4 linked regions of the Homo sapiens genome follow. The protein of the gene in region 1 interacts with the protein of each later gene in a biochemical or structural test. Each region holds a gene or a part of one and is shown in the gene's direction. Other genes may lie near its edges.

Evidence for each region.
Region 2: the proteins of AP1B1 (region 1) and CLINT1 form a complex in vitro, tested with the Homo sapiens proteins (one study listed by BioGRID).
Region 3: the proteins of AP1B1 (region 1) and KIF13A form a complex in vitro, tested with the Homo sapiens proteins (one study listed by BioGRID).
Region 4: the proteins of AP1B1 (region 1) and SLC2A8 form a complex in vitro, tested with the Homo sapiens proteins (one study listed by BioGRID).

What each region holds. Positions count from the first base shown.
Region 1 is NC_000022.11:29,378,571-29,385,570, reverse strand, and holds part of AP1B1 (AP-1 complex subunit beta-1), read left to right. Parts: intron 1-7,000. UniProt on the Homo sapiens protein: Subunit of clathrin-associated adaptor protein complex 1 that plays a role in protein sorting in the late-Golgi/trans-Golgi network (TGN) and/or endosomes.
Region 2 is NC_000005.10:157,786,136-157,793,179, reverse strand, and holds part of CLINT1 (clathrin interactor 1), read left to right. Parts: intron 1-1,184; coding exon 1,185-1,477; intron 1,478-2,528; coding exon of another isoform or gene 2,529-2,555; exon of another isoform or gene 2,556-2,580; intron 2,581-2,739; exon of another isoform or gene 2,740-3,612; coding exon of another isoform or gene 3,613-3,666; coding exon 3,667-3,817; intron 3,818-5,161; coding exon of another isoform or gene 5,162-5,187; coding exon 5,188-5,534; 3' UTR 5,535-7,044. UniProt on the Homo sapiens protein: Binds to membranes enriched in phosphatidylinositol 4,5-bisphosphate (PtdIns(4,5)P2). May have a role in transport via clathrin-coated vesicles from the trans-Golgi network to endosomes. Stimulates clathrin assembly.
Region 3 is NC_000006.12:17,984,636-17,992,675, reverse strand, and holds the start of KIF13A (kinesin-like protein KIF13A), read left to right. Parts: upstream 1-5,040; 5' UTR 5,041-5,212; coding exon 5,213-5,267; intron 5,268-5,531; coding exon 5,532-5,622; intron 5,623-8,040. UniProt on the Homo sapiens protein: Plus end-directed microtubule-dependent motor protein involved in intracellular transport and regulating various processes such as mannose-6-phosphate receptor (M6PR) transport to the plasma membrane, endosomal sorting during melanosome biogenesis and cytokinesis.
Region 4 is NC_000009.12:127,400,169-127,407,168, forward strand, and holds part of SLC2A8 (solute carrier family 2, facilitated glucose transporter member 8), read left to right. Parts: intron 1-2,388; coding exon 2,389-2,585; intron 2,586-3,491; coding exon 3,492-3,635; intron 3,636-3,790; coding exon 3,791-3,899; intron 3,900-4,649; coding exon 4,650-4,823; intron 4,824-5,251; coding exon 5,252-5,397; intron 5,398-6,943; coding exon 6,944-7,000.

The sequences.
Region 1 (7,000 bases):
GTGGCTCCTAGTTGCCCTCGGGCTAAAACTCACATTCCTTAGCATGGCATTCAAGGCCCTTTGGACTCTGACCCCTGCCTAGCTCTCTTTTGTCATCTCTCCTGCTCCACACTCACCTTTTCCCAAGCTCCAGTCAACCTCAGCTACTTGCTACTTCTGCAAGCACCAACTCTTTTTCTTTTTTCGAGACAGGATCTTGGCTTGTTACCCAGACTGTAGTACAGTGGAGCTGTCATAGCTCACTGCAGGCTCCAACTCCTGGGCTTGAACGATCCTCCTGCCTCAGCCTCCCAAGTAGCTAGTACTACAGATGGGTGCCACTGTGCCTGGCAAATTGTTTTTATTTTTTGTAGAGATGGAGTCTTGCTATATTGCTCAGGCTGGTCTCAAACCCCTGGCCTCAAGCAGTCCTTCTGTCTGGGCCTCCCAAAGTGCTGGGATTACAGGCGTGAGCCACCACACCTGGCCTCCCAACTCTTTATACCTCTCTGTCTTTGCTTTGCACTCTTCCCTCTGCCTGAACACCATTTCCTGCTCTCCCAACCTTACCTGCCTAGCTGGAGTGCTACTTGGTTCTTCCCATCTGATCATCACCCCTAGGTCTGAGCTAGATGCCCCTCCTTGATGCCCTCTGGCAAGGGTCACAGTGGGTTGTGATTGTTTATTTGGCTCTCTTCTAAGTAAATAGCTCTTTTTTTTTTTCCAGACAGAGTCTCGCTTTTTCGCCCATGCTGGAGTGCAGTGGCGCGATCTTGGCTCACTGCAACCTCCGCCTCCCGGGTTCAAGCAATTCTCATGCCTTAGCCTCCAGAGTAGCTGGGATTACAGGCACCTGCCACCATGTTTGGCTAATTTTTGTATTTTTAGTAGAGATGGGGTTTCACCATGTTAGCCAGGCTGGTCTCGAACTCCTGACCTCAAGTGACCCGCCTGCCTCGGCCTCCCAAAGTGCTGGGATTACAGGTTTGAGCCACCGTGCCTGGCCAGTAAATAGCTTTTAATCCTTGACGAAGACCTGCCTTAACTACGTCTCCAGCACCTAGTGAGGTGTCTGGTACATAGTTGGTGCTCAGCAGGTGTTGAATGAGTGAATGAATGAATATTGCATTGAATTGTTAGGATTCCTTGACTCCTAAGGGGTTCAAAGCACTTTCTAGATTATCTCCTGTCCATCCTCATGTCACCTCATAGAGACAGGGAGAAATCTGATCAGTGCTGAGACTACTTTCAAACTACAGTTGGTACCACCAGACAGCCATCAGGGTGTTTCAGGGCTTCCAGAGACCTGGGAATCTGGTACGGAGCAGGGAAGTGGTAAACTCTCTCTCTCTCGGTAGTAGTAATAGTGGCTAACATTTATCAGGCATTTTGTGGGCCGGGCACTGCTAAGGGCTAGGTATGTATTGACTTGTTTTAGCCTCACAAACCCTTCAGGCATGTAACATTGTAGTTCCCATTTTACAGTTGTGCTGCAGTTGTGCCTGTTTGCTTTGTAGAACCTGGGAGAGCCCCTGTCCTACCTGCAATGGCTGCCTTCACCTACCCACTCCTTGTGTTTAGATTGTCCCCTCTTATATAGTGGAGCTGAGGAAGGACTTGGCTATGGTTCTACACTCCTACACCTCATGCTGTCTGGGTCTTTAGCCTTGGACTTGACCTCTGACCTCTGTCAGGAAGGGAGGCCTCTCCTAGTTGTGGTATGAGTGTGGCCTAACTCTGGGTTGACCCCACAAGGCCCAGAATTCATCAGTTACTGGGATGCCTTAGTCACTGATCCCCCAGGTTACCACCAATTACCACAGTCTACCCTGTGGACTCGGAGCTGGAAGGTGGTAGGTTTGAAAGTCAGGTCTCAAAAGCTTTTTTTTTTTTTTTTTTTTGAGACGGAGTCTGGAGTGCAGTGGCGTGATCTCGGCTCACTGCAAGCTCTGCCTCCCAGGTTCACGCCATTCTCCTGCTTCAGCCTCCTGAGTAGCTGGGATTACAGGCGCCCGCCACCACGCCCGGCTAATTTTTCTATTTTTAATAAAGACGGGGTTTCACCGTGTTAGCCAGGATGGTCTCGATCTCCTGACCTTGTGATCCGCCCACCTCAGCCTCCCAAAGTGCTGGGATTACAGGCGTGAGCCACCGCACCCGGCCCAGGTCTCAAAAGCTTTAAAACTGAACCTTCAGTGTTCATTTTTGGCATTTCAGTAGCTGAGTTCCATAGAGGAATAGACTTGGGTGGTAGATACTTTTTACCACACCCTCCTTACATTTAGGATCTTAAGCCTATTGGGAGCAGAATAACACAATTTCAGTAGAGCCAGCCTTGGGTCTGCTGCTGTGGTGGTCTTCATTGCCCGATCTCCGAGTATTGGGTGGCTGGCTGCTGGGACACTGAGGACAGAGACTTTCTAAGTCCAGTATTCATTCAGTATTTATCGAGGCCTGCTAATGCCTGGTGCTGGCCTATGCTGATAGGTCAACAGGCCAGATATGGCTTCAGGCTTCAGATAAGCCCTCTAGTTGCTTACTTCATTTTAATGGGAGAGAGAGACAAAGAAGTAGAGAAAAAAATGCAATGATTAGAAAAACCAATAAGCCACAAGGGAAACAAAAGGCATAGCAGCCAGAACTTATTAAAATATAGGTCAGATGTCAGGACTCCTCTGCTCAAAACCCTCCAGTGGCTCCAGCTCACTCAGTAAAAGCCAGAGACCTCACGCTTGATCATAAGGCCCCCTGCATTCTCCTGTGACTTCCTGACCCACTGTTTTCCTCATTGCTCACTCAGCCACATTCACTTCCCTTCTGTTCCTCAGACATGCCAGGCACATACTCACCTTTGCACTGGCGATCTCTTTTGCTTGGCAGGCTCTTTCGCAGACAGTGTCACCTGTCACCTTCTCAAGGAGGCCTTCTATGGCCACCCTAGTTAAATTTTAACTTCCCTTCCTCCCCTCTCCCCTCCCTATCCTCCTTCCCTCCTCTTTTTTGCCTCCATTGTGTTTATCACTATCTAAGATGTTATATATTTTACTCACTTATCTTGCTTACGGTCTCTTTCCCCCATTAGGACATAAACTCCATGTAGGGAAGGATTTTTGTCTGTTTCTTTCACTCCTGCATTCCCAACATGTAGAAGTGTTTCTGGTACACGAAAGATGCTCAGGAAATGTATGAATAAGAACACTGAAGGATGTGGACAGAGAAATACCTTCTTAAGGTTGTACATGCATGGCCAGGTGCCGTGGCTCATGCCTGTAATCCCAGCTACTTGGGAGGCTGAGGTGGGAGGATCATTTGAGGCCAGGAGTTCAAGACCAGCCTGGATAATTTAGCGAGACTCCACAAAAAACTTGAAAAGATTAGCTGGGCATGGCACACGCCTGTAGTCCCAGCTACTCAGGAGGCTGAAGCAGAATTGCTTGAGCCCAGTAGTTTGATGCTGCAGTGAGCTATGATCACACCCCTGCACTCTAGCCTGGGTGACAGAGCAAGACTATCTGTCTCTAGCAACAACAACAAAAAAGATAGTACATGTAGGAAAGGTATTTTTTTTTTGTTTCTTTTTTTAAGCATCAGAGGTATCACGCTGAAGGGAAGTTATCTTTGAAATGAGATCATCTAAGCTGAGATTTGAAGGATAAATTGGAGCAGTTAGGAGAGGATAATCCAAGCAGAAGGATCAGCAAGGGTAGAGATAGTGAAGAGTTGGCTGTTAGAGGAACAAAGAAGGCATGTGGGCCTGGAGGCAAGGACCTGGTACTTATATCCTGTGCCAGAGCCCCCCACCTTCTGCAGCTCTGTCACTCTGAGCTGATACCTATGGGAGCAGGTGAGAGTGACTTGGCCTCACTGAACGTTTCTCCCACTGGAGATGTTGCCACCTGATCTTCTACCCTTGCCATTTCTTCTCTCTCTCATAATTTATTCACTTAACTTCCATTTATTGGCTGTAAATGTGCTAGGGGTCTGGCATGTTCAATTTCAGTATAGTTAGAATAGCTTGACAATCAGAGCAGATGTATCTCTGATCCTGGATAACCCCGTGAATGGAACATGGAGAAGCTGCTCTAGCAGAGGTTGGTTTACAAAACATGAAATTTGCCCAAGAAGAGAGTTGAGCACTGGTCATTCAGCTACTTATTGAACACCTGTTTGCCAGGTACCAGCCTAGGAGTCAGGAATATGATAGTGAACAAAATGGACAAAATCCTTACCCCCATTTACATTAGGGAATTTATAGGGGGAGAAAGAATAGACAACGTAAGTATATTTTATAGTGTGTAGGTAATAGGTAATAAGTACTTTGAAGGGAAAAAGGGCAAAGAGGGTTAGGAAGTGGTGGGGATTATGGGGGAGGGGTATACAATTTTAAATAAAATGGTCAAAGAAGGCCTCAATGAGAAGATGACATTTGAGCCAAGACCTAAAGAGGTGAGGGACTGAGCCATGAGGCTGTCTGGAGAAAGAGCCTTCCTAGCAAAGTGAATAGCACGGGCAAAGGCCCTGGGGTGGATGCATGTTGTGTTCGAGGATCAGTAAAGAGGCCTGTGCGGCTGGAGCTGAGGGAATGATGGGGAGAAGAGTTCAAAGGGTAATGGCCAGCAGGGTGCATGCGTGAGAGAGGAGGGGCATGCATCTCTTATAGGACCTGTGGGCTATGAGGCCATGGTAGGGACTTTGGCTTTTACTATGAGTAAGACAGAGAACCGTTGGAAGACGTTGAGCAGAGGGGTGCTACTGTCTGATTTGGACTGTAAGAGGATCATCCTGGCTGTTGCTGAGATGGGGTGTCAGCAAAGCAGTGTGGGAGCAGCTTTGTTAGCACTCTAAATGGAAGGTGATGCTGGCTTGGAGCTGGGGTTAGTGATGGAGCTAGTGAGAAGCTGCTCATGGATTCTAGATTCATTTTGAAGGTCGGAATCCAATAGGATTTGCCGATAGATTTAAAGGAGAGTATGTTGTTAAGAGTGACTCAGGTTTTTAGCCTGAGGCCCTCTTAAAGATGGTGCTGGCAGGAACTAGATGATGTAGACTGCAGGGTGAGCCAGTTGGGGAAAGGAAGGAAGCAGGAGGTCAGTTTTTATCCCATTGTTTGAGCTGCCTGCTAGTCATCTCCACAGTAATGTGGAGATGTCAGTTACACAGTTTGGACATGTGTGCCCGGGGGTTCTGGGGAGAGGTTGGGCTATGTGGATGGTATGTAAAGCTGTGATACCGGATGATCCACCAAAGAGGCAAAATAGCATAGATGGGGAAGAGAAGAGGTACCAGGCCTGAGCCCTGGGGCACACAGTGTTGAAGGAGAAGGAGAGGAACAAGCAAAGGAGACTGAGAAGGCGCAGACAGTGGCGTAGGAGGGCAGGCAGAGAGCATGGCATCCTAGCATTTGAGGGAAGACAGGTTTTCAGGAAGGAGGGAGTGATCAGTAGTGTCAAATGCTTATCAGCATGAGACTTGTCATTTGACATGACCATTGTGTCTTCTCCTGGCAGGACCCAACACACCTGGCATCCAGAACCATTTCTGAATCTCATTCTTCCTTCCCTAGCCTCGTCTGCTCCTTTCCCTTCCAGGTCCTTTCCTTCAGCCAGGCAGCGGGGCTCACAGACTTCTTGTTTTGGCCTTAGGTAAATCACTCATCTCTCAGTGTCTCTAATTCCTTGTTTTTTAACTGAATTACCCTGAGAATTAAATGAGAAGGGTTGTAAATCACTTAGCAAGAAGCCGTTCCCCAGCTAGTGTTGATTTAATTGTTGTCAGTTCCCTCCGTTGTCACATTGGCAATTTCGTGGTGCATCTCTTTGCCACCTCCACTCTTGCCTCTCTAAATCTGACCTGTCTTTTTGCGTCAGCCAAGCCCCTCTTCATCTAAGAGAACTTCCCTTGCTGCTCCACCTATCTCAGAACCCTCCTCCTCTGGAGGCATGATCACTCTGCCGTTCCCCTGCAGTCCTTTACCTGGCCTCTAAATCTGTAAGAGCTCAGTGAGAAAAGACTGTCCTTTGTTTACTGTGTGCATGCTTCCGTGTGGGGCACAGTTCCAGGCATGGAGCGGATGGTGCTCTACACTGTTAATTTGACAGATCTTCAGAAAGTGTTCCCATTACATAGATGGGAAAACCGAGATCACAAAGAGCGTTGTTCTGTAGTCTCTGGCCTCTTTCTCCTCATCTCGATTAATTTAAGTATTGTTCAGAAGAAGCCTTACTTACTTTATTTTCAAGTCCAGAGGAACTTTTTCTTTTTTTGAGATGGAGTCTTGCTCTGTCACCCAGGCCAGAGTGCAGTGGTGCGATTTCAGGTTCAAGCAATTCTCCTGCCTGAGACTCCTGAGTAGTTGGGACTATAGGTGCGAGCCACCATGTCCAGCTAATTTTTGTATTTTTAGTAGAGATAGGTTTCGCCATGTTGGCCAAGCTGGTCTCGAACTCCTCACCTCAAGTGATCTGCCCACCTCGGTCTCCTAAAGTGCTGGGATTACAGGCATGAGCCACTGCGCCCATCACTTTTTTTTCTTCACAGCAGATCTTTCCGCACATTACGGCTTATAGATCAGTTCAGAACTGGTACCTGATTCTAGAATGGAGTTCTAGAGACTCAAAGCCAATATAAGAACGTTTGCATGTGACATTTGTCTGCCTTTAGTTCCTTTTCATTCTGAAGTCTTTAATTGCTAGTGGGCCTCAGGAAACTGACTTTTTTTTTTTTTTTTTTTTGTGGGACGGAGTCTTGCTCTGTTGCCCAGGCTGGAGTGCAGTGACACGATCTCAGCTCACTGCAAGCTCCGCCTCCTGAGTTCACACCATTCTCCTGCCTCAGCCTCCCGAGTAGCTGGGACTACAGGCACCCGCCACCAGGCCCAGCTAATTTTTTGTATTTTTAGTAGAGATGGGGTTTCACCGTGTTAGCCAGGATGGTCTCGATTTCCTGACCTCATGATCCGCCCGCCTCGGCCTCCCAAAGTGCTGGGATTACAGGCGTGAGCCACTGCGCCCGGCCTTTTTTT
Region 2 (7,044 bases), on another chromosome or scaffold:
AGAAATTAGCCCAATTTTTATATTAAATTGTTAGTAGAACTTGGAGTTTCTAAGTGAATTATTTTCTCTTTCAAGGGTGCTTACATTTTAATATGGTAATAGAAGAATGTAATTTTAAAGACTTCACCTTATTATTCTCTTTTGATATTTAGCATAATGAGACATGGTATTGTAGTGGTTGGTCACTTTTTAGGCTAGACAAAATGTATTTCCAAGTTGTAAATGAACATGGAATGCAAAGGGATGGTGTTAATTAACTTGGAAGGTACATACTTACTATTTGCTTTCAGATGACGGTTTTTATGTAGCTCTTTCTTCACATTTTGCTTTTTCAACTTCCATTTATGCGTATTTATCTGTTCCTTTCAATATAAAAATTGATCAGAGGTTAATTGATAAGACTGTAGTGATTAAGAGTATGGATTTTATGCATTCAACCTTAAACTTGCAAAGTATGATAGGGTTTTGCTTGTTTCTGGCTTGGTTGTGTTTTTTAATATTACATGAGTTTTCCTCCTCTCTTTGATTGTAAATAAATGGTCCCAGTTGAAGCAGGCAATGTGCTAAGGTTATAGCCCTTGTATTGTCAGTGGAAGTATGGCCAAATAAGTGAGAAATTCTTCATTTTTTTTTAGACGGAGTCTCGCTCTGTCACCCAGGCTGGAGTGCAGTGGCACAATCTCAGCTCACTGCAACCTCCGCCTCCCGGGTTCAAGCGATTCTTGTGCCTGAGCCTCCCAAGTAGCTGGGACTACAGGTGTGTGTCACAACACCCAGCTAATTTTTTTGTATTTTTAGTAGAGATGAGGTTTCACCGTGCTAGACAGGATGGTCTCAATCTCCTGACCTTGTGATCCACCTGTCTCGGCCTCCCAAAGTCCTGGGATTACAGGCGTGAGCCACCATGCCTGGCCATTTTTTTTTATGGTAAATTCAATGTGTCACCTACAGAGCTGCCAAGAGATGGATTTTACGTTATATTTGGGAGGTTTGTTTTTTCTTTGCCACCTTGTTAACTCTCGTGTAATATTTATGAGAAAGAATACTGTCCAGATGGAGATGGTACCTGCAGATGTTAATCTGGGGGACTCAGATCAGCTCTAATTTGTTTCAGTTCATAGATTGTTACATTTGTTCTGTGCATTCCATGAAGTTTCTTACCCTTAGAGTTATTTCTGTCTTAGTAACAGCAACAAGTGGGAATGGAGACTTTGGTGACTGGAGTGCCTTCAACCAAGCCCCATCAGGCCCTGTTGCTTCCAGTGGCGAGTTCTTTGGCAGTGCCTCACAGCCAGCGGTAGAACTTGTTAGTGGCTCACAATCAGCTCTAGGCCCACCTCCTGCTGCCTCAAATTCTTCAGACCTGTTTGATCTTATGGGCTCGTCCCAGGCAACCATGACATCTTCCCAGAGTATGAATTTCTCTATGATGAGCACTAACACTGTGGGACTTGGTTTGCCTATGTCAAGATCACAGGTAAGTTGTCTGGTTCCCTTGGAATTTGTTATTTATAATCTTTGAGATGCTCTAACTCATTGAATGATAGATTAGTATAAAACAGAAAAATAAGCAAGTCCTTTTTATGTGTATGAATATGTGTCTGTGTGTGTATATATACGCATTTGCACATTTCATTTACCTCATACTCTCCCCTAGCATAGTCATTTGCATTCTGGAAGGCAAGACCTTCTCCCCCATCTTGTAGTCACTGTAAAGCCAAGCATGGTGCCTTTGCACAGAGGAGGAACATGGCAAAAATTTATTGTTACAACAAATTGGTACTTGATAGTTTTTTTAAATTGTCTTTAAGAAAAAGAAATAGGCCAGGCGCAGTGGCTCACCCCTGTAATCCCAGCACTTTCGGAGGCTGAGGTGGGTGGATCACTTGGTCAGGAGATCAAGACCATCCTGGCTAACACGGTGAAACCCAGTCTCTACTAAAAATACAAAAAATTAGCCAGGCATGGTGGCAGGCACCTGTAGTCCCTGCTACTTGGGAGGCTGAGTCAGGAGAATGGCGTGAACCCAGGAGGTGGAGCTTGCAGTGAGCTGAGATCGCGCCACTGCACTCCAGCCTGGGCGACAGAGTGATACTCCGTCTCAAAAAAAAGGAAAAGAAAAAGAAATAGAGATATTGTTTCACTTACGGCAAGTATCCACTTAGTAAAATTTCTGGTCATGTCCCTAAAGAAATATCACTCATTGGTTGTAAATAATTATTGCTAATATGGAAAATCATTCTCTCGAATGGTGAATGTTCTTCCCAATTCTGGACCTGCTCTACATTATATAAATGTTTTATAGGCTCATCTTTCAACTTTCATTTTCATAAAGAAAAACAACCAAAATGGGAGCTTCTTAATTCACTATTTTATAGTTAAATCCGAATTACCTAGTACTAGCTTAGAATTCAGACAAGTGCAGGCTTGGAAAATATGTGTCTGAATGGTACCAGGAACTTGCTATTTTTGACTCAAACTATTGAGAATATGTGTTTATGATGCTAATTACTCATTTTAATGTGTAGATTCTCGTCTTTGGGGTATTAGGATGAAGGAAAAGAAGAAAGAAGCAGAAAGGTGACTGCTCTATGTAACAGAAATAAGACCTAATGTATGAGTTAAGCATAAAGTCAGTCTACTTTATTTGCAGTCTTAATTGTAACTGTCATAATTCTTTGCATTGGTACATTTTTAATTATTCTTCCTCTTCCTGTTCCTTTTTTCTGTCCTTTTCAGTTATCCTCAATAACCACTAGGAACCTCTGCTTCTTTCTCCTGAATTTCTTCTTTCTCCTACATTGTTCCATATATTAATCAGTTCAGTTAGTGTTGCTCACTTTAGATAGTAAAAGTATACACAGAACAGCAAAATGTCAGGATATGTGAAATATAAATTGCTTTTTGACAGTTTTGCCTTATATCCTTGTATAATGTGAGACATCATATCCTGAATTCTCTGTTTTGTTTTGTTGTTTTGAAACAGAGTCTCGCTCTGTCGCCCAGGCTGGAGTGCAGTGGCACGATCTCTGCTCACTGCAGCCTCCACCTCCTTGGTTCAAAGTGATTCTCCTGCCTTAGCCTCCCAAGTAGCTGGGACTACAGGCATGTGCCACCATGCCTGGCTGATTTTGTATTTTTAGTAGAGATGGGGTTTCATCCTGTTGGCCAGTCTGGTCTTGAACTTCTGACCTCAGGTGATCTGCCCACCTCAGCCTCCCAAAGTGCTGGGATTACAGGCATAAGTCACTGCGCCTGGCCTCTGAATTCTGTTTTGAAAGAATAAATGTCCACTTGTGTATCTCCTTAAAGCTGTACTAACCTAAAATCGGTAGTTCCCCTGGGCATTTGCCAGGGATGGTGGCTTCTAGACTTTGAGTGATGGGAGAATAATTGTTAGTGTAGGTAAGTTGTTGGTTTTATCCACCTCAAACCTGATTGGGACTTCAGAGGAACCTCTTTGGGAAGCTAATGATTCAGGGTATTGAAGACATTAGCATAGAACATTAGTGGTTCTTTTTGTTTCAGAAGTTCATTGTTGTGATTAAATTGCCATCTGATAATTTTTATAGAACAGATGCTTAATTTTTAGAGCATTTTTCTATTTTCCAGCCTTTGCAAAATGTTAGCACAGTGCTGCAGAAGCCTAATCCTCTCTATAATCAGAATACAGATATGGTCCAGAAATCAGTCAGCAAAACCTTGCCCTCTACTTGGTCTGACCCCAGTGTAAACATCAGCCTAGACAACTTACTACCTGGTATGCAGCCTTCCAAACCCCAGCAGCCATCACTGAATACAATGATTCAGCAACAGAGTAAGTTACCTTAAGACGTCCCACTTCTTTGTGTACTTGCAGTCTTTTGCCTTAATGCCAGGACTACTTCAAACTATAAATAAAAATATATCACATAAATTGTAACAGTTAACCAAATGCCTGTTCACTTAAGATATTTTCACATAATATTTACTGGGTATTCCTCCTGGCACATTGAATTACTTTATATTCTATTCTTGTCCTGATAACATTTATTGTATTGTGGAGAGTTTTAAGGACCTGATCACTAAAATAAAAATTTGCTATACAGATTTTTTTTTAAATATAGGCAAATACGATGGACAAACAAAAATCATCTGATTCTGCCGTTGAGGGGTAATTGCCATTAATACATATTTCTTTCTATGTTTTCTTTTTTTTTTTTTTTTTTTTTCTGAGATGGAGTCTTGCTCTGTCGCCCAGGCTAGAGTGCAGTGGTGCAATCTCAGCTCACTGCAGCCTCCACCTCCCAGTTTTAAGCAATTCCTTGCCTCAGCCTTCCGAGTAGCTGGGACTACAGGCGTGCACCGCCACACCTGGCTAATTTTTATATTTTTAGTAGAGACAGGGTTTCACCCTGTTGTCCAGTCTGGTCTTGAACTCCTGACCTCAAGTGATCCACTCGCCTTGGCCTCCCAAAGTGCTGGGATTACAGGCGTGGGGCACCGCGCCTGGCCACTTTCCATCTTTTCTAAGCATATTTTTAATACTTGGGATCATTCTCTCTATACTGTTTCTTATTCAACATTAAGTTATCATTTTCCCTGTGTTGAATAATATTCTTAGGAAAATGATTGTTAGCTCTTGATAGTTATATTAGTGTATGATTTCCCTTGCTAATTATTTCAATTGTTTCCAGCTATTTGTTATTATAAATCAAGATTTTGTATAAATCTTCATACTTCTGTTTTTTTCTTAATAGAATGTTCTAAAAATAAGTCAAAGGATATAAACTTTTTAAAGATTTTTGTATAAATCTTCATACTTCTGATTTTTTTAATAGAATGTTCTAAAAATAGAATAAGTCAAAGGATGTAAACCTTTGAAAGATTTTTTATACACACTAGCTCTTGACAACTTGTTAAGTAGGATTTAACAATAGGTTTTGTAGGAATGTTTTTAAGTTGGCTGTTTTTCCCCAGTCTACTCTTACTGTTTCTACATCTCTGGGGAACCAGAGCCAATAGTCACTGAATATATGTCTCAAGAGGAACCAGTGCAGAGTAATTGATTTCTAATAAAATCACTGTAAAGGAATTTTATTGGGGCTAAAGAAGTATAGATAGATGGTCAAGAAGTTATTAGTTCTCTGTTCTATGAACCTAAAAATTTATTGTGGTAAAGTTCTTCTGTCTGTTTTCGTCTGGTAGATATGCAGCAGCCTATGAATGTGATGACTCAAAGTTTTGGAGCTGTGAACCTCAGTTCTCCATCGAACATGCTTCCTGTCCGGCCCCAAACTAATGCTTTGATAGGGGGACCCATGCCTATGAGCATGCCCAATGTGATGACTGGCACCATGGGAATGGCCCCTCTTGGAAATACTCCGATGATGAACCAGAGCATGATGGGCATGAACATGAACATAGGGATGTCCGCTGCTGGGATGGGCTTGACAGGCACAATGGGAATGGGCATGCCCAACATAGCCATGACTTCTGGAACTGTGCAACCCAAGCAAGATGCCTTTGCAAATTTCGCCAATTTTAGCAAATAAGAGATTGTAAAAGAAGCAGATTGAATGAAGAATTTTTAGCTGTGCAGATAGGTGATGTTGGGATGGAAAATGCTAATCAACTACCCTTTCTTTTATCAAGTAATTAAAATAAATCTACATAAAGAACCAAAAAGGCTGTTTTATAAAAGTGAAATATCCAGTATTTCAGAGGGCCAGGCAAGAGCACTTCAGATGAGGCAGTCAAAATCATTTTTTTCCAGTGAGGATAGACCACAAGTGGGTGGTGAGACCATTGAAAGCCTTTATCAACTGAAGAGTCCATTTAACAGCATAATTTGTGGGAAGACTGGAATAGGGCTGAATAAATGTGTTTGAATCTCTAATTTTATACTTTCTTTTCCTGAGGAACTTGATTTTTCTGTCCCTGGATCGCCTTGTCATAATTGGGTCTGTTCCTTTTACTACCACTCTTGAGTCCATATATGAAATCATTAAAGTTGGATGATCAGTTTTTTATAAAAATATATATTTTTGTCCAAGAAAAAAAAAAGCATACATATGTGATTATGGCTAAATCAAAGGTAACTGGAATGTATATACTTTTGCTAATGTTCCAGCAACACTGCTATTATACTATCCAAATTTTTATTGTAACAAAACCTCTTTAAGCAATTGGTGATTGCCATGGGACTTTTCCCATGTCTTCTGCTGTAATTATCCTGTGCAGAACTAGGAAGAAATTTTTTTCAGGACTGCTCTATGGTTTCCTTTAAAAGAAAAAAACTTCTGTTTGTTTTTAGCAGTCATTATTTACAATTTGCAGTGATTAACTTGGCAAGGCTTCCTTCCGTGTTTATCCCTGTAGCCATCATTTAAGTCAGGAACAGTCAGAAAAATATTTATTTTATTTTTTTTTTGGGTGTCTGCAAAGGTAAAAATCCATTAAAACCTTAAGTTAAATATAAATGTTACAACTCAATGTTTGCTTTTAGATTTTATACAGTATTTGTTTTGTTTTGGTTTTGAGTGTATATAATGCAGCATTAGCAATATGGTTCCAATAGAGGAGTTAAATATATATTGTTAAAGGAGACCTGTAGCAGTCAAAGATTTTATTGATTTAATGACAAAGGAAATTAATGAAAATGTTTTTGTTTTTCTGCTGTAATTCTGCATTAAGCTCACATGAAAATCATGATTCTAGAGTTTGGAATGCAAAATTAATTGTTTTACCCTCAAGCTGGGAATATTTTTCAAAATAAATACTATAATATAGATATCAAATTATTACCTCCCCATGTTATGTTGAAAATTTTTTTATTAAATTGATAAAACTTTATTTCCATTATATTCATAATGTTCTGTTATACATAACATTAAAATGTTCATTAAAATCAATGTTGAACTGCTTTTTCTTTCGTTCTGTTAGACATTTGAGACCATTTGGGGAAAAAATAATTATAGTTTGGGCAAAGTAATTTTTATAAATAATTTAAAATTATTTAATGACTTCTCTATTCTTTCCTATCAGACTCTACTGTTAGGAATT
Region 3 (8,040 bases), on another chromosome or scaffold:
CGTGGCCAACATGGCGAAACCCCTTCTCTACTAAAAATACAAAAAATTAACCATGTGTGGTGGTGTGTGCCTGTAATCCCAGCTACTCGGGAGGCTGAGGCAGGAGAATCACTTGAACCTGGGAGGCGGAGGTTGCAGTGAGCCGAGGTTGCGCCACTGCACTCCAGCCTGGGTGATACAGCCAAGACCCCATCTCAAAAAAAAAAAAAAAAAAAAAAAAAAAGGGAGTTAGATTTGGCATGGGAAGCAGGAGAAGGCAGCACTTCTGTCACTAGGTGGAATGCCCAGGGATGCAAATCTGATTCTTCATGGAGGCCTTTCCTAGGCGAAGAACTTGAGGAGTCCCCTGACTGAGTTCAGCTTCTCTTCCAATTTGAGAACTCTGTCAGCGGAATCCAAGCACGGAATGGGTGGCCGTTTTGGGGGCTGTTGTAAAAAGGTCCACAGGACTCCCAAAGGCCCTTCAAACGCTAAAAAGACATAATTCCTAATGATGTAAGGCTAAACTGTTTTGAAAAAGAAATGTTTAGTAAACTTTTATTTATTTATTTATTTATTTATTTTTGAGACAGAGTCTTACTCTGTCACCCAGGCTGGAGTACAGTGGCATGATCTTGACTCACTGCAACCTCTTTTCTCCCCGGTTCAAACAATTCTTATGCCTCAGCTTCCCAAGTAGCTGGGATTACAGGCATGTGCCACCATGCCCAGATAATTTTTTTGTATTTTTAGTAGAGACAGAGATTCACTGGGTTGGCCAGGCTGGTCTTGAACTCCTGGACTCAAGTGATCCGCCCACCTCAGTCTCCCAAAATGCTGGGATTATAGGTATGAGCCACCATGCCCAGACTAGTAAACTCTTCATAGAAGAGGTGAGGACTAATCTGGTCTTTAAAGTTGGAAAGGGTCAGGAAAGCAGAAAGAAGAGTCACTCTGCAAAGAACCAATGGGAACTGTTTTTCTAACCTGTAACACCAAATGAATCATGCCCCTCTCACCTTAAGACCTATTCTTCTTCTCAACTATTCGTGGTGTTATGGGCCATCATCCTCCCAATCCCTTTCTCAGTCACTTGCAATCCTTTGCCTCCCTCAATCTTCACATCCCATTGGTTGCTAAATTGTTCCACTTTTCTCGCAGTAAGTTCTGCGTCTGTTCCTTCTGCTCCATTTGTGCTATCATTGGCTTTGTTCATGCTATCATCACCTCTGGATGATGATATCATCACCTCATCTGGATGACTACAATAGTCCTCTGGATGGATACAGTGTTGCCAAATTAATTACCCTGAATCAATGCTCTGAATATGTCAATCCCTGGCTCCAAATCCAAATGCTTCATTCAGTTCCTATTGCCTTTACAATAAACATGAAATTTCTTAGGCACTCAAGGCTTTCATGATCTGGCAGAGAATGAGGGAGAAGGAGAAAATGAGACAGAGAAGGGATTGATTAAATTTTGTATATCCTCCCTTCCTTTCTTCCTTCCTTCCTTTTCTTTCATCCTTCCTCTCTTTCTTTATTTTTTTGAGACTGAGTCTCACCCTGTTGCCCAGGCTGGAGTGCAGTGGTACAATCATGGCTCACTGCAGCCTTGACCTAGGCTTTCTAGCAATCCCCCCTGCTTCAGCCTCCCAAGTAGCTGGGATCACAGGCACACGCCATCACGCCTGGCTAATTTTTTATTTTTTGTAGAGACAGAGTCTCCCTATGTTGCCCAGGCTGGTCTCAAACTCCTGGGCTCAAGTGATCCTCCCACCTTTGCCTCCCAAAGTGCTGAGATTTCAGGCATAAGCCACTGCGCCTGGCCTCTGTATTAGTTTCTTAAGACTACTGTAACAAATGACCATGAAATGGGTGGCATAAGACAACAGAAATTTAGTGTCTCAGAGTTCTGGTGGCTAGAAGTCCCAAATCAAGGTGTCAGCAGAGCCGTGTTTCCTCCGGAGGCTTCCTTTCCTCCTCCTAGCTTCTGGTGGCTCCTGGCAAACCTCGGTGTTCCTTGGCTTGTGGCTGCATCACTCCAATCTCTGCCTCTGTCTTCACATGGTCTTCCTCCCTGTGTATCCAAATCCCCCTCTCCTTTCTCTAATAAAGACACTAGTCAGGCCAGGTGCGGTGGCTCACACCTGTAATCCCAACACTTTGGGAGGCCGAGGTGGGCAGATCACCTGAGGTCAGAAGTTCGAGAGCAGCCTGGGCAACACAGCAAAACCCCATCTCTACTAAAAATACAAACATTAGCTGGGCATGACGGCACATGCCTGTAGTCCCAGCTACTTGGGAGGCTGAGGCAGGAGAATCGCTTGAACCTGGAAGTGGAGGTTGCAGTAAGTTGAGATCGTGCCACTGCACTCCAGCCTGGGCAACAGAGCGAGACTCTGTCTCAAAAAAAAAAAAAAAAAAAAAGACACTAGTCATTAGATTTAGGGACCATCCTAACCCAGTATGGCCTCATCCTAATTTTATTTCTGCCAAGACCCTGTTTCCAAATAAGGTCACATTCACAGGTACTGGAGGTTATGGCTTGTACATACCTTTTTGGGAGTTACAAATTCAACCCTCTACAATTCCCACTGATAGAAACTACCAGAGCAATGGCTTAGCATAGGGATGGTATCTTGCTTGTGAAAAGGTCCTGGATAAAGAATTTCAGGAATGGTGGGAGGTAATATTAAACAGAGAGGTTTTTTGTTTGTTTGCTTGTTTTTGAGGTGGAGTTTGGCTCTTGTTGCCCAGGCTGTAGTGCAACGGTGCGATCTTGGCTCACCGCAACCTCCGCCTCCCAGGTTCAAGCGATTCTCCTGCCTCAGCCTCCCAAGTAGCTGGGATTACAGGCATGTGCCATCACGCCTGGCTAATTTTGTATTTTTAGTGGAGACGGGGTTTCTCCATGTTGGTCAGGCTGGTCTCGGACTCCCGACCTCAGGTGATCTGCCAGCCTCGGCCTCCCAAAGTGCTGGGATTACAGGCGTGAGCCACCGTGCCCAGCCTGAGAGTTTTTTGAACAATAGAATACCATGCACGATTAAAGGATAAAATTTTAATTTTGTGAAAAATCAGTCTGGAAGCTGGATTTAGGAGTGATTAGAGGAGGCAAAGCTAGGAGGGTTAACAGGATGTCTCAGCAGCCCAAAAGTGAAGAGGTAAGCACAGACCTAGATTCTTAGCCTCAGAGGGCTGGAAATTTCACCTCTTTCTGAGCAGCAGCTGAGAGCCTGTAGCCTAAAGCCTACAACAGTGTTTGTAACATAGTAGGGCGCTCAGAACACATTTGTTGAACAAGTGAATGGACAGGTAAAGTGAGATTGCAGCAGCAGGAATGGAGAGGAGGAAAGATGCAACAGGCCCTTCAGAGGTAGACTGAGATAGCTGGCTCTACAATAAGGTGGGGCTGAAGTATTTGTCCTTCAGTGTACACAGGGGACTGGTTCCAGGAACATCCAAAACCATGCATACTCAAGTCCCACAGTCAGCTCTGCAGAACCCACAAATAGGAAAAGTTGGATCTCTCAGTTTTGAACCTGCCAAATACTGTCTTTTCTTTTTTCTCCCTTTTTTTTTTTGAGACAGGGTCTTGCTTTGTTGCCTAGGCTGGAGTGCAGTGGTGCGAACATGGCTCACTGCAGCCTCAACCTTCCAGGCTCAAGTGATCCTCCCACCTCAGCCTCTCCAGTAACTAAGACTACAGGCACCTGCCACCATGCCCGGCTATTTTTTAAATTTTTATGTTTGGCAAGATGGGGTTTCTTTACATTGCCCAGGCTGGTCTCGAACTCCTGGCCTCAAGTGATCCTCCCGCCTCGGCCTCCCAAAGTGTTGGGATTACAGGCGTAAGGCACTGTGCCAGAGCACGAATACTGTATTTTCAATCAGATTTTGGTTGAAAAAAAGCCACGTGTAAGTGGACTCGTGCAGTTCAAACCCGTGTTGTTCGAGGGTCAAGCGTAGCATCACCTCGGTTGGAGGCGGACGGACCCCTCTCCTAGCACCTGCCGTACACTGTCTAGCATAATAAGTCTCCACGCCCTCTCTTCCACCTTAGCGTGTGCCTCTGCATCATGCTATTCATGTTTCTGTGTGTCCTCAACAGCACCCTGCACACAGTAAAACCTCAATGCATCTTCCAATAAGTGGATTTCTAGATTTAAGCAAAATCGAAAGATTCCTGGATCTAAACTCTGGATTTTTGACTTCTGTACGCTTCAAAATGCCTGGCACTCGGTGAGCGCCCCTTAAGCACTTGTTGAACCAAACAGAATAAATCGGATTCGCCCAGTTCCGCCCTGGCAGCGAGGTCTGCATTTGGCAGGATGACAGAATCCATTGCTATTAAATTCTTATGTAAGAGTTAATGGCCCTCCCAGCCCACTTGACATCCCTCCCGAGACAAGAGAGGCCGGGAAAGGAAGGGAGAGCACTATTTACAAACATACACTGTTTCGGTGGTGGATTCACAGATTCATTTCTAGTCTCGGTTCACCACAGAGATCTTAAAATACCGCTGCAGGCTCCGTGTGGGACAGAGGGGGCGGCGTGCCGGGACTCGGAGGGGAAGGCCTGCGCACCCAGCGCGGCGAGCCGTGGTCCTTGCTGCCGTCCCGGGGCTCCGGGTGGCAGCGGCCCCAGAAGGCGGCTCGAGCTCACGGCGGTGTCCGGGGGGGGGCCCCGCGGGCGCCGGTGCAGGCTTGGCCTGGGAGGTCCCCTGGGGAAACAATGCGTCCCGCCCCGGACTCCAGCCTCCCCTAAGCGCCGCGCTGCTCGCCGCTCCTCTCACTGCCGTCCCGCCGCTCCAGGGGGCGCCGCGCGTGGCCGTGTCCGGCCTCTCCCGAGCCCCGGCGGGTGACGGGCGCGGAACATGGCGGCGCGGGGCCCCGGGCAGCCGCGAGGGGCCGCGGCGCTGCGGTCTCGGCTGGGGCGGCGCGGCTAGAGCTGCGCCTGGGCCCGCCGGCGAGGCCTCCTCCCCGCCCGCCGCCGCCGCCGCCGCCGCCGCGCCCCGCCCCGCGCGCCCGCCCCTCCCCGGGCCGCGGCCGTGCCCCGCGTCGCGCTCCCCCGGGATGGCCCGCGCGCCTCGGCGCTGCCTCTCGGAGCTCACGGCGGAGCGGCGGCGGCCGCGCTCGAGGGGCGCGCGGCTGCAGCGGCGGCGGCGCCGCGCGTGAGGGGCCGCCTAAGGCCGAGCGGGCGCGGCGAGCGGCCGGGCGAGCGCAGCCAACATGTCGGATACCAAGGTAAAAGTTGCCGTCCGGGTCCGGCCCATGAACCGACGAGGTGAGGAGCTTTCCGCTCTTTTTTATTTCTGCTCGGGCTGAGGGCGGGGGCAACTTTAGAAACTGCGGGGCCGGGACGGCGAGAGCGCGGCCGGGGCCGGGGGGCCGGGGCGGAGGCGGCGTCCGCGCTGGCCGTGGTGCCCGGGGCGCCGTCTCCAGGCTCGGCCGCCTCCAGGGACGGAGCCCCGCTCGGCGCGGCTGGCGGGCGGGCGGGCTGGAGGCGCGGATGCTGGACTTTGCAACGTCCCTTTCTCTCTGCTTTCAGAACTGGAACTGAACACCAAGTGCGTGGTGGAGATGGAAGGGAATCAAACGGTCCTGCACCCTCCTCCTTCTAACACCAAACAGGGAGAAAGGTAAAGCGGGTTCCGAGAGGGCGGCTGGGAGGATCCAGCCTCGCGGGGTCCCGCAAGTTTGAGCCAGGAAAATGGGAGTGCTCTTTCCTATTGTTAGGAGGACGGCTTCAAGTTTGTCGCCGGCTCCTGTTTGAAGCTGTTGCAAGTCCAAGTTCCTCTCCTCCCTCGCCCCCCTTCTCCTCCATCTAGAGCGGCGGCAGGCAGGGCACCCTGGCCACAGCACCAGTCAGCTGAGCCCGGGCGGGCTGCGAGGCACCCGGGAGGGAGAGGGCCGGATGGGACCCCATAGGTGATTCGTCCAGCGGCCACATTTTACAGACAGGAAAACTGAGGCCCGAGGCGGGCAGGTGACCAGCCCACGACCTTATTGTTCGTGGAACCCAGTGTCCGTGATTCTTTTCATCACTGCAGGGTTTGTTTCCTTTGGCAGAATTGTTTAGGGACAGTGTGTCTAAAATGGGAGGAAAAAATAAAGCAAAAGTCTTGTACGATGTAGACTCAGGCTGGACTAGTTAGTATCTATTTTAGTTGTTGTTGCTGAGTTGAGATAATGCCTCAATGTAATGCGCGAATTTTGATTTTCAAAGAAACAAAAGTAGGGCCCTGAACTGTATAGACACTGAGGGATGTTTAAAAAGGGGCTGTATTTACTAGATGGCAACATATTTGCATTTGAAAAGTGGTAACTGTTGGATCCTTATTAATTCCGTTCTGTTCCATGCAACAGTATGGGTTAACGCCCCAAAATAATTTGAATATTTGGCATTTTTCTAGTAAGCCTCTGAGAAGAAATCGGTTGGAATTCATTCAATATAATAATGCAGTAGCTTGTAAATATATATATGTGAAAAAACGGGAGAGTTTACAATATTAATTTTCATTGGAAATGAATATGAGTTTGTGTTTCCACGAATCACCTGTTGATCGATGGAATACAATTTAGTGAATTTCCTTCTTCAGAGATTTTCACTGAAGAGAGACTCTGAAGCAGGGTTTGTGACATTATTGCTTAGAGAAGCAATGCCTCCATTCTATAATGTGTGGTGTTCAAGCTCAGTTTTGCCAAATTTGGGGAAAGAAATCATGAGGCGATAAGATTGGGGATTCTTTGCTTTTCGTGTTGAGCATAGCAGTTTTTATCCAGTTTGCAAACATTCTGCTACCTTTAGCAGATTCTGGTGGTGATATTAAATAGCTAAGCTATATGTAAAATGTTGTGTTTAACACTGAATGTAGTGTTTATTGTACATTGTACTGAATGTTGTCTAGTAATGGATGTATTTTTAGATGCATTTATAGCAGTGTAGATAGTATAGCATATTTCATGGTGATAGTAAGTAAACTCATTGAGTACATTAAATATTTACAGATTAAATTAGATGCCCATATCACCAACGAATGTCCCCTCCCCCCACCCCCCCGCAAACTGCATATTGTTTCGGGAAAAAATTCTGTTGGGTCAGATTCTTGAAAGCAGTCTGGGGGAACAGGTAGAATACTTTTTAGCTCCTGTTGTGTAGCCGTTACTTGTTTTCCTTGCTGGCTTGGCACCTGCTCCTTGTCACTCTTAACCATAAGCAGTGCGACTGTTAGCTACTGTTTAATGACATGAAGTGTTGTCATTTGTGAAGAGAAACAGATTTGATTTTGTGGGATTTGGTACAATCTATAACTGTGGACAGTTGGTTCCAAATGCTAAGTAATCAGTTGATCATTTTTCGGGCTGAACCACGTTAGTTACTAATCAGGATCTTTTAGGTAAAGATTTGAAGGGTGATTTTGGGATCTATTCATCTGCTTACTTACGATAGTCCCTTATCTGGAGTTATAAAAATAGCATTGAAATATGGGTACTCTCGTGTTTTGTCCTTCTGACGGATCTAATTCTTTGAATAGCAGATGAGCTTTCTGTGGGATTCTGTCTTGAGTACCGGTCATTTCATTTACAGACAAACTGAGTAGTCAACAAAACAGTGCTCCTTGTACATTAGGATTACTGTCTTTGCACAGATGAAGACACCAAATGCATTTTTATTTTCATTATGCAGCTTGGTTTCATATTTCTCCACAGACTTTTCCCTTAAAGTAACAGTGCATTTAAAAATAGAAACAATTCCTCCCTTGGGCTCTGGGTTGATTAATTGCAGCAGTGCTTCATGCTATGTTTGCAATTCATTTCTGTCATTGGTTTTTAGATAGTGCTCAGGGCAGGGCAAAGGTGAAGAGTAGAATACTGAGAATGTTATTATTTTTCATATCTGCAAGTCCAAGGTTTGAAGTGTAAGAGGTCTTTAAATGCATATTGGCAAACCTGTGTCAAATTGAGAATTACTGTTTTTCTGAAAGTTGCAAGAAATTACCAATGAATTAGCCATGGATAGAAATTGAAGGTTAGTGGGTGAAAGTTTTCAGTCTTAC
Region 4 (7,000 bases), on another chromosome or scaffold:
TTTTTTTTTTTTTTTGAGACAGAGTCCCGCTCTGTCGCCCAGGCTGGAGTGCAGTGGTGGCTCTCTGCAACCTCTGCCTCCTGGGTTCAAGCGATTCTCCTGTCTCAGCTTCCCAAGTAGCTGGGACTACAGGCATGTGCCACCACACCTGGCTAATTGTTTGTATTTTTGGTAGAAAGGGGGTTTCACCGTGTTAGCCAGGATGGTCTTGATCTCCTGACCTCATGAACCGCCAAACCTCAGCTTCCCAAAGTGCTGGGATTACAGGTGTGAGCCACCGCGCCCGGCCGATAGGTGTGTCTTATGACTGAGTTCCAGGGACAGCTGGAGAAGGTGATACCCTCAGCTTTCCTGAAGCCCCCTCTAGGGGTGTGGGAAGGGCTGACTGCTTAGGTCAGTACCTTACTGTGCAGTGACAAACCAGAGGGCTCCAGAGGTGGGTGGGTCCCTGTAAAAATCTTCAGCCCGGGCGAGTAAAGGGCTGAGCAAGTCCCCTGAGAATGTCAGTGCCAGATTCACCATGTCGGCGAGTTGCAACGTGAAGGAGGCCGGGGTCCTGGGGACCCCGAGGGGCAAAGCTGGGCCAGCATGAAGAAACTTCAGGAGACAGGTGTGTTCTCATTAGAAAGAGGCCAGGCTTTAGAGGCCAGACCCAGTGGCTCACACCTGTAATCCCAGCACTTTGGGAGGCAGAGGTGGGCGGATCACTTGAGGTCAGGAGTTCGAGATCAGCCTGGCCAACATGGTGAAAACCCATTTCTATTTAAAATACAAAAATTAGCCAGGCGTGGTGGTGGGCACCTGTAATCCCAGCTACCTGGGGGGCTGAGGCACAAGAATTGCTTGAACCCAGAAGGCTGAGGTTTCAGTGAGCTGAGATCGCGCCACTGCACTCCAGTGTGGGCGACACAGTGAGACTCTGTCTCAAAAAGAAAGAAAAAACAAGGGCAGGCTTCAAATCTGACCATCCTGAGTTTGGGGATAGCCTCTCCTACGTGCTGTGTGACCTTGGCCAAGTCATACCACCTCTGAAAGCCTCAGTTTCTCTGTCTTGAAATGGGCATAACCTCATCTAGTCCAGTACCTGTCCATTAAATTAATTGACACATGAAAAGTGCCTAACAGTGGGTTCCAAATGAGAATTGTCAAGGGATGACTTGAGAACCATGGGGATCATCGGGGTAGGAGGCCTCGGGGGCCTGACGGGCTATGGCCTGGCCCAGGGCACAAGCCCTCTGCATCGTCAGGGCGGATGATACACAGGTCTTTGGTGTTTCATTTTTACCCACTTAACCACCCTAACAAATTCAGAATCCTGCCAGCGATCTGGCTACCTTGGGAGACCTGAGTAAACCAAAGCCCCCACTGTGTGCAGGTGTTGACATTCATCATTTCGGGGACAGGTACTGGGTGTCCACCCACCCGTGGCACTATCTTCAGCTCATCTTAATATGTGCTTGTTGCTTCTCCTGCCTTTCCTGATCAATTTCTGTGAGTTTCGATCCACTGGGGTGGGTGAACTCTGATAACTCCACAAAGTGACATGGTGGTGGCACGTTTGCTTCACATTGGGGCAATCATGTTCCAACGACTAGACTTCATAGAACAATTGTCTGCACCCCCAGCACAGAAGAAAAATAGGGACATCATGGCTACCTTAGAGGTATTTTTCCACTGGGAACCAGGGATGGGTAAGCCTTGGGCTTAGGAAAAATTAGTAATTAGAGCAGCAATGCCCTAGACTCATTTATTCCAGGGCCCCTTTGTAAGAGAACCTTTTAACTTTATATAAAACTAGGTAATTCTGCACTTATGCTGTTCTTCATACGTCAAGACAGCAAAATCCTCTCACCTCTCTACTTTCATGTATACTTTGAATAGATAATGCATTCAAATGACTCAACACTCAAGTGCCAGAGTGGAGAGATGTCCAGTGAAAAGCTTCCTCCGCCTCTGTCCCTTTCTTGTCTGGGGGAGTCCCCATTGCCTGTTTCTTGGTAGCCTTCAGAGAGTCTGTTCATATGAGGGACATGCATATTTATCCTCCCTCCCCCACCTCTTCTACAAATGGTGCCACATCATACCATGCGGACACGCAGCAAGCACCTCATCCTTCATTTTTGTGGCTACATAAATGTTTCGTTGAACGGATGCAGCCTAGTAATGTCCGCGTTGTCATACCCACTGTCGCTTCCGCAGCTGGTGTGATTGGCCCGTGCCATGTGCCTTCATGAACAGTTGTGATAATGGCAATGTCAGTAGCGAACATGAGGGCAGATGTGCAGAGGCAGCGAGGCCCCATCTCTGAAGCTGAGTCTTTGAGGCTGGCAAGGCCCAGGCTGGCTCACCCTGGCTCTGACGCCAGCCTCCTCCACCCACCCCCCGCAGGCTGGGTGCTGGAGTGGCGCTGGCTGGCTGTGCTGGGCTGCGTGCCCCCCTCCCTCATGCTGCTTCTCATGTGCTTCATGCCCGAGACCCCGCGCTTCCTGCTGACTCAGCACAGGCGCCAGGAGGCCATGGCCGCCCTGCGGTTCCTGTGGGGCTCCGAGCAGGGCTGGGAAGACCCCCCCATCGGGGCTGAGCAGGTGAGAGGCTGGAAGGCAGAGCTGACAGGAGTGGGACAGCAGTCACGGGAGGGTAGCACAGCCTGTTCCCAAGGCCACACACTTGGGGGGTGGGGGACAGGGAGGTGCCTATCCACCCTCCACCCTCAGCGAGGACAGGCCCAGTGTGTCCTGTCTTTGAGCAGGCCAAGACAGCTGGAGCCCCACGGAGCTGGGCCCTGGCCTCCAAAGTCACCAGCAAAGCCCGAGCTTTGACCCTTACTGTCCCAGGAAGAGAATGGCCAGGCCTGGTGGGGGATACAGAGGCAGAGCTGAGGACTTGGATTTAACAAAGGAGTTGCAAGGCAGGGTAGAGGGCTAAAAGTCTGGGTTTTAGAGTCACCCAGGCATGGGTTTGAAGCCCCCACGCTGCCCCTCACCTAAGCTTTAGCTCTTCACCTGTGATGTGGGAGTCAGCACCTGCTTCACAGTGCTGGGTGGGACTCAGTGGGGGAAAGGAAGGCGGGGCTTAGGGAGGAGGGGGGCTCAGTGGGGAGGGTGGGGTCAGCGAGGAGGATGGGTTCAGTGGGGAGGGGAGGGTCAGGGCTGTAGGAGGTGCTTAGCTAGGGCCAGGCCCAGACCTGAGGCAGGTGCTGGATGTGTTGGTGGTGGCAGGGATGAGGGCAGCAGCTTGCTCTTTGCCCAGATTACCTCTTTGTGGCTCCCCCCCACCTATCAGGAAGTGCCCTGGGCAGGTGAGGGTCATCTCACCTGACACATGGGGAGGCTGGGACTTGTCTGCACACCTGAGGACACAGGGGGTGCTGGGATGAGGAGCCAAGACGTGGGAGTCAGCGCTCCCCAAGCCTTAGGACAGTAGACCCCCAGAGGGGGGCCGCTTGCGGGAGGGGAGAGAGAAATCCTGATGGCCAGTATCCGTCAGAGCAGAGCTTTCACCTGGCCCTGCTGCGGCAGCCCGGCATCTACAAGCCCTTCATCATCGGCGTCTCCCTGATGGCCTTCCAGCAGCTGTCGGGGGTCAACGCCGTCATGTTCTATGCAGAGACCATCTTTGAAGAGGCCAAGTTCAAGGTAAAAGGGCCCTGCCTGGCCTGCCTCGTCCAGCCCCCACATAGATGGAGCTTCCTCCCCAAGCCCAGGGCCCAGCCATCCAGCACAGGCCTGGAGAGGGAGGGACCCAGCTCTCAGCTGGCCCACCTGACCTGCCTGGGCTCTGTCTCCCCCAGGACAGCAGCCTGGCCTCGGTCGTCGTGGGTGTCATCCAGGTGCTGTTCACAGCTGTGGCGGCTCTCATCATGGACAGAGCAGGGCGGAGGCTGCTCCTGGTCTTGTCAGGTGAGGGTTCACCCCTGTGCAGCCTCCCCGCCATGCGGGGGAGGGCCTTCGCCAAGGCCACCACACTGCAGGAGGAGGACAGGGAGCATTTGTGATGACAAACATCATGGACTAATGCGGCCATGATTTGACAGCAGCTTGTCACCAAGCACTCACTGCAGGCCTGTCCATGCCAGTGGCACTCCCACACCACGCCTTTAACCTCTGTGGTGAACCCACCAGAAGGCACTCTCACAGCCCCAGCTTATGACGGGAAAACTGAGGGCCAGGAAGGTGAAGTGACTCAAGAGTTTGTGGGTCCTTTTGGACAAGTGACTTTACCTCTCTGAGCCTCAGTCTCCCCCTCTGGGAAGTGGGGGTAATGGCAGTGCCTCCCTCAGCACCATTTTGAGGAGTGGGAGGTGATCCACGTGAGGCCTTCAGCAAGAGCTGCGGCCCACGGACATTTGGTACCCAGCAGCTGCTGCGAAGACGACCGTCGGGGCTGAGGGTTACTCGCTGCTGCTTCTGTGCCGGTACCTCCCATTTCCTCGGCCCAGAGGGTCTGCTCCGGGAACTTTTTGCAGTTCGCTGAGGTCCAAGGCGGGGTGGCTGCCACCCAGTCAGGGCTTCTGCGGCCAAGGTGCCAGAACACCAAGCTGGCCGTTCTCTGGGAGCCGGGCCTGCCCCTCTCAGAGGCATCCAGGCCATGCTGCTGCGCCCTGGGCCGTTCCCCGGGTGCCCCGCCCACTGCCGCCCTCCCGCCTGCAGGTGTGGTCATGGTGTTCAGCACGAGTGCCTTCGGCGCCTACTTCAAGCTGACCCAGGGTGGCCCTGGCAACTCCTCGCACGTGGCCATCTCGGCGCCTGTCTCTGCACAGCCTGTTGATGCCAGCGTGGGGCTGGCCTGGCTGGCCGTGGGCAGCATGTGCCTCTTCATCGCCGGTAAGGGGGCCTGTGGGAGGCTGGGCGAGGAGTGGGAGGTGATCCCCCCGGCCCTGCTGTGGCGGCTCCCGGCAGGTGGGGTCTTCCCCAGCCTCACCTCTCCTCTCGTAAGTTCCAAGCTCTGCATTTCTAGCTCTGACCACATGCAGCTGTGGAACTAGGCCCCTCTGCGTTCCTTTCACTTAATCCCCTGAGCAGCCCTCGAGCAGGCCCCGTTGTGACCCCATCTCAGAGACAGAGCCTGTGCCTGAGGAGGGAAGAGGCTGGCCGAGGCCTTGGCAGGAAAGCATGGAGCTGGTGGGACCACACTGGGATCCGGGACCCCACAGCCCCACAGGCTGGGAAGCTGGGTCTCTTGGCTCTGCAGCAAGCTGAGGAGCCCAGCCCTGCGGACCCTGATGCCTGTCTTGCCTGTCTCGCTCCCACAGGCTTTGCGGTGGGCTGGGGGCCCATCCCCTGGCTCCTCATGTCAGAGATCTTCCCTCTGCATGTCAAGGGCGTGGCGACAGGCATCTGCGTCCTCACCAACTGGCTCATGGCCTTTCTCGTGACCAAGGAGTTCAGCAGCCTCATGGTGAGGGCAGGCTCCACCAGCACCGCGTTCGTGCAGTCAGCCGAGAAGCACTTTCTAAAACCACTTGTATTGCAGAAGACCCAGGGTCGTGGCCTTACATGCAGCCTGAGCCCCACCATGCCTGGGCCACTGGCCATCTTGGGCAAGGCGACGTGGAGGCAGATGGGCTAGGCCAGATGGGGAACCCAGGCTGTGACCCCTTGGGAGTCCTCTGCCTGTCTTGGCAGTCAGACAGCACAGCTGGCCTCTCCCCTTAGTGAACGTCAGGAAAGCGGGCCTTGAGCCTAAGGTCTTACATGGGAAGAGTTGACAGGGCTGGGCTGCAGCCCCACCCTGGCTACTTCCTTGCTGTGTGACCTTGGGTATGATGCTTACCTTCTCTGAGCCCGCTTCTTTGGCTGAAACTGGAGGAGAGTAACAGCAGCTTGCTCTTAAGACGGATGGGAGCATTAATTCAGTTCATCCTGTTGCTGCCTTCTCACGGATGGACTGGCACAGGTGTGGCCCCTGTCCCGGGGCTTCCCAGCCAACAGAGAGACAGTTCTGGGGTAGATGATCTGGTTGTTTGTTCAGTCATTTGTGCCCTCCAGGTCTCCTGGCATGTGCCATGTCCAGGCCCATTCAAGGCGCCAGGGAGAGCAATGAACAAGATGGACAGGGTCCCCTTTATGACAAGGACGGGAAAGGCCATGGCAGTGGTGGGAGAATGAACCCCAGTGGGGCTGGGTTAGGATGTGGTGGGGCGGGTCATGAGGGGCCAGCCTGGAGTCTGTGCAGAGCTTGGGACCCGCTTAGGCAGGACTGCCCGGGGAGCACATCGAGGGGGCCAGGCCGATGCCTGGGGGTGGAGATTACTTGCTGCAGCTGGGAGGGGATGCGCAGCAAAGGAAGGAGGAAAAGAAGCCAAGAAGGAGGTGACAAAGGACCTAACAGTCCTTTTTTAGGAGAGAAAATGTCCAAGAGGCCAAGAGAAGGCCTTCGAGGAGGGAGAGATCGCCAGGTCCCAGAGGACCAGGAGCTGAGAAGCACCTTTTTAGTTCTGGCACGTGGGAGGTCACAGTGGTGGTGGATGGCAGGGACAGGTTCTGACTGAAGGCCCCATGTGCTCCTGGGGCCATGCTCGCTTTGCCCTGTCTCACCCATTTCCACCACACTATGAAAGAACCCACCGGGGGCCTCAGGGTGGGGCCAAAGCTGAGGGTGGAGGGTTGGTCTGTGGGCCCTGGAGTCAGACCTGGAACAGGAGCCCAGCTGTCACTGGATAGCGGGTCTCTGGCCTTGAGGCAGTCACTTCATTGCTGTGAGCCTCAGTTTCCCCAGCCATACGACCTCGGTATCTTGGACAGTGCTCGGCCCAAGCCACCAGACTGGATGCCAGACTATCCTCCATGTCCCAGAGCTGGGTGGAGATAAAATGGGTGTGGCCTTGGGCAGGGCAGGCTGGGGTCAGGGGACTGGACCCCCTGGTGGCAGAGCTGTCTCAGTGATCGCGTGGGGCTTCCTGATCTCTCCCCGCGTCCACCCATGGCCTTTCCTCTCTCTGCAGGAGGTCCTCAGGCCCTATGGAGCCTTCTGGCTTGCCTCCGCTTTCTGCATCTTCAGT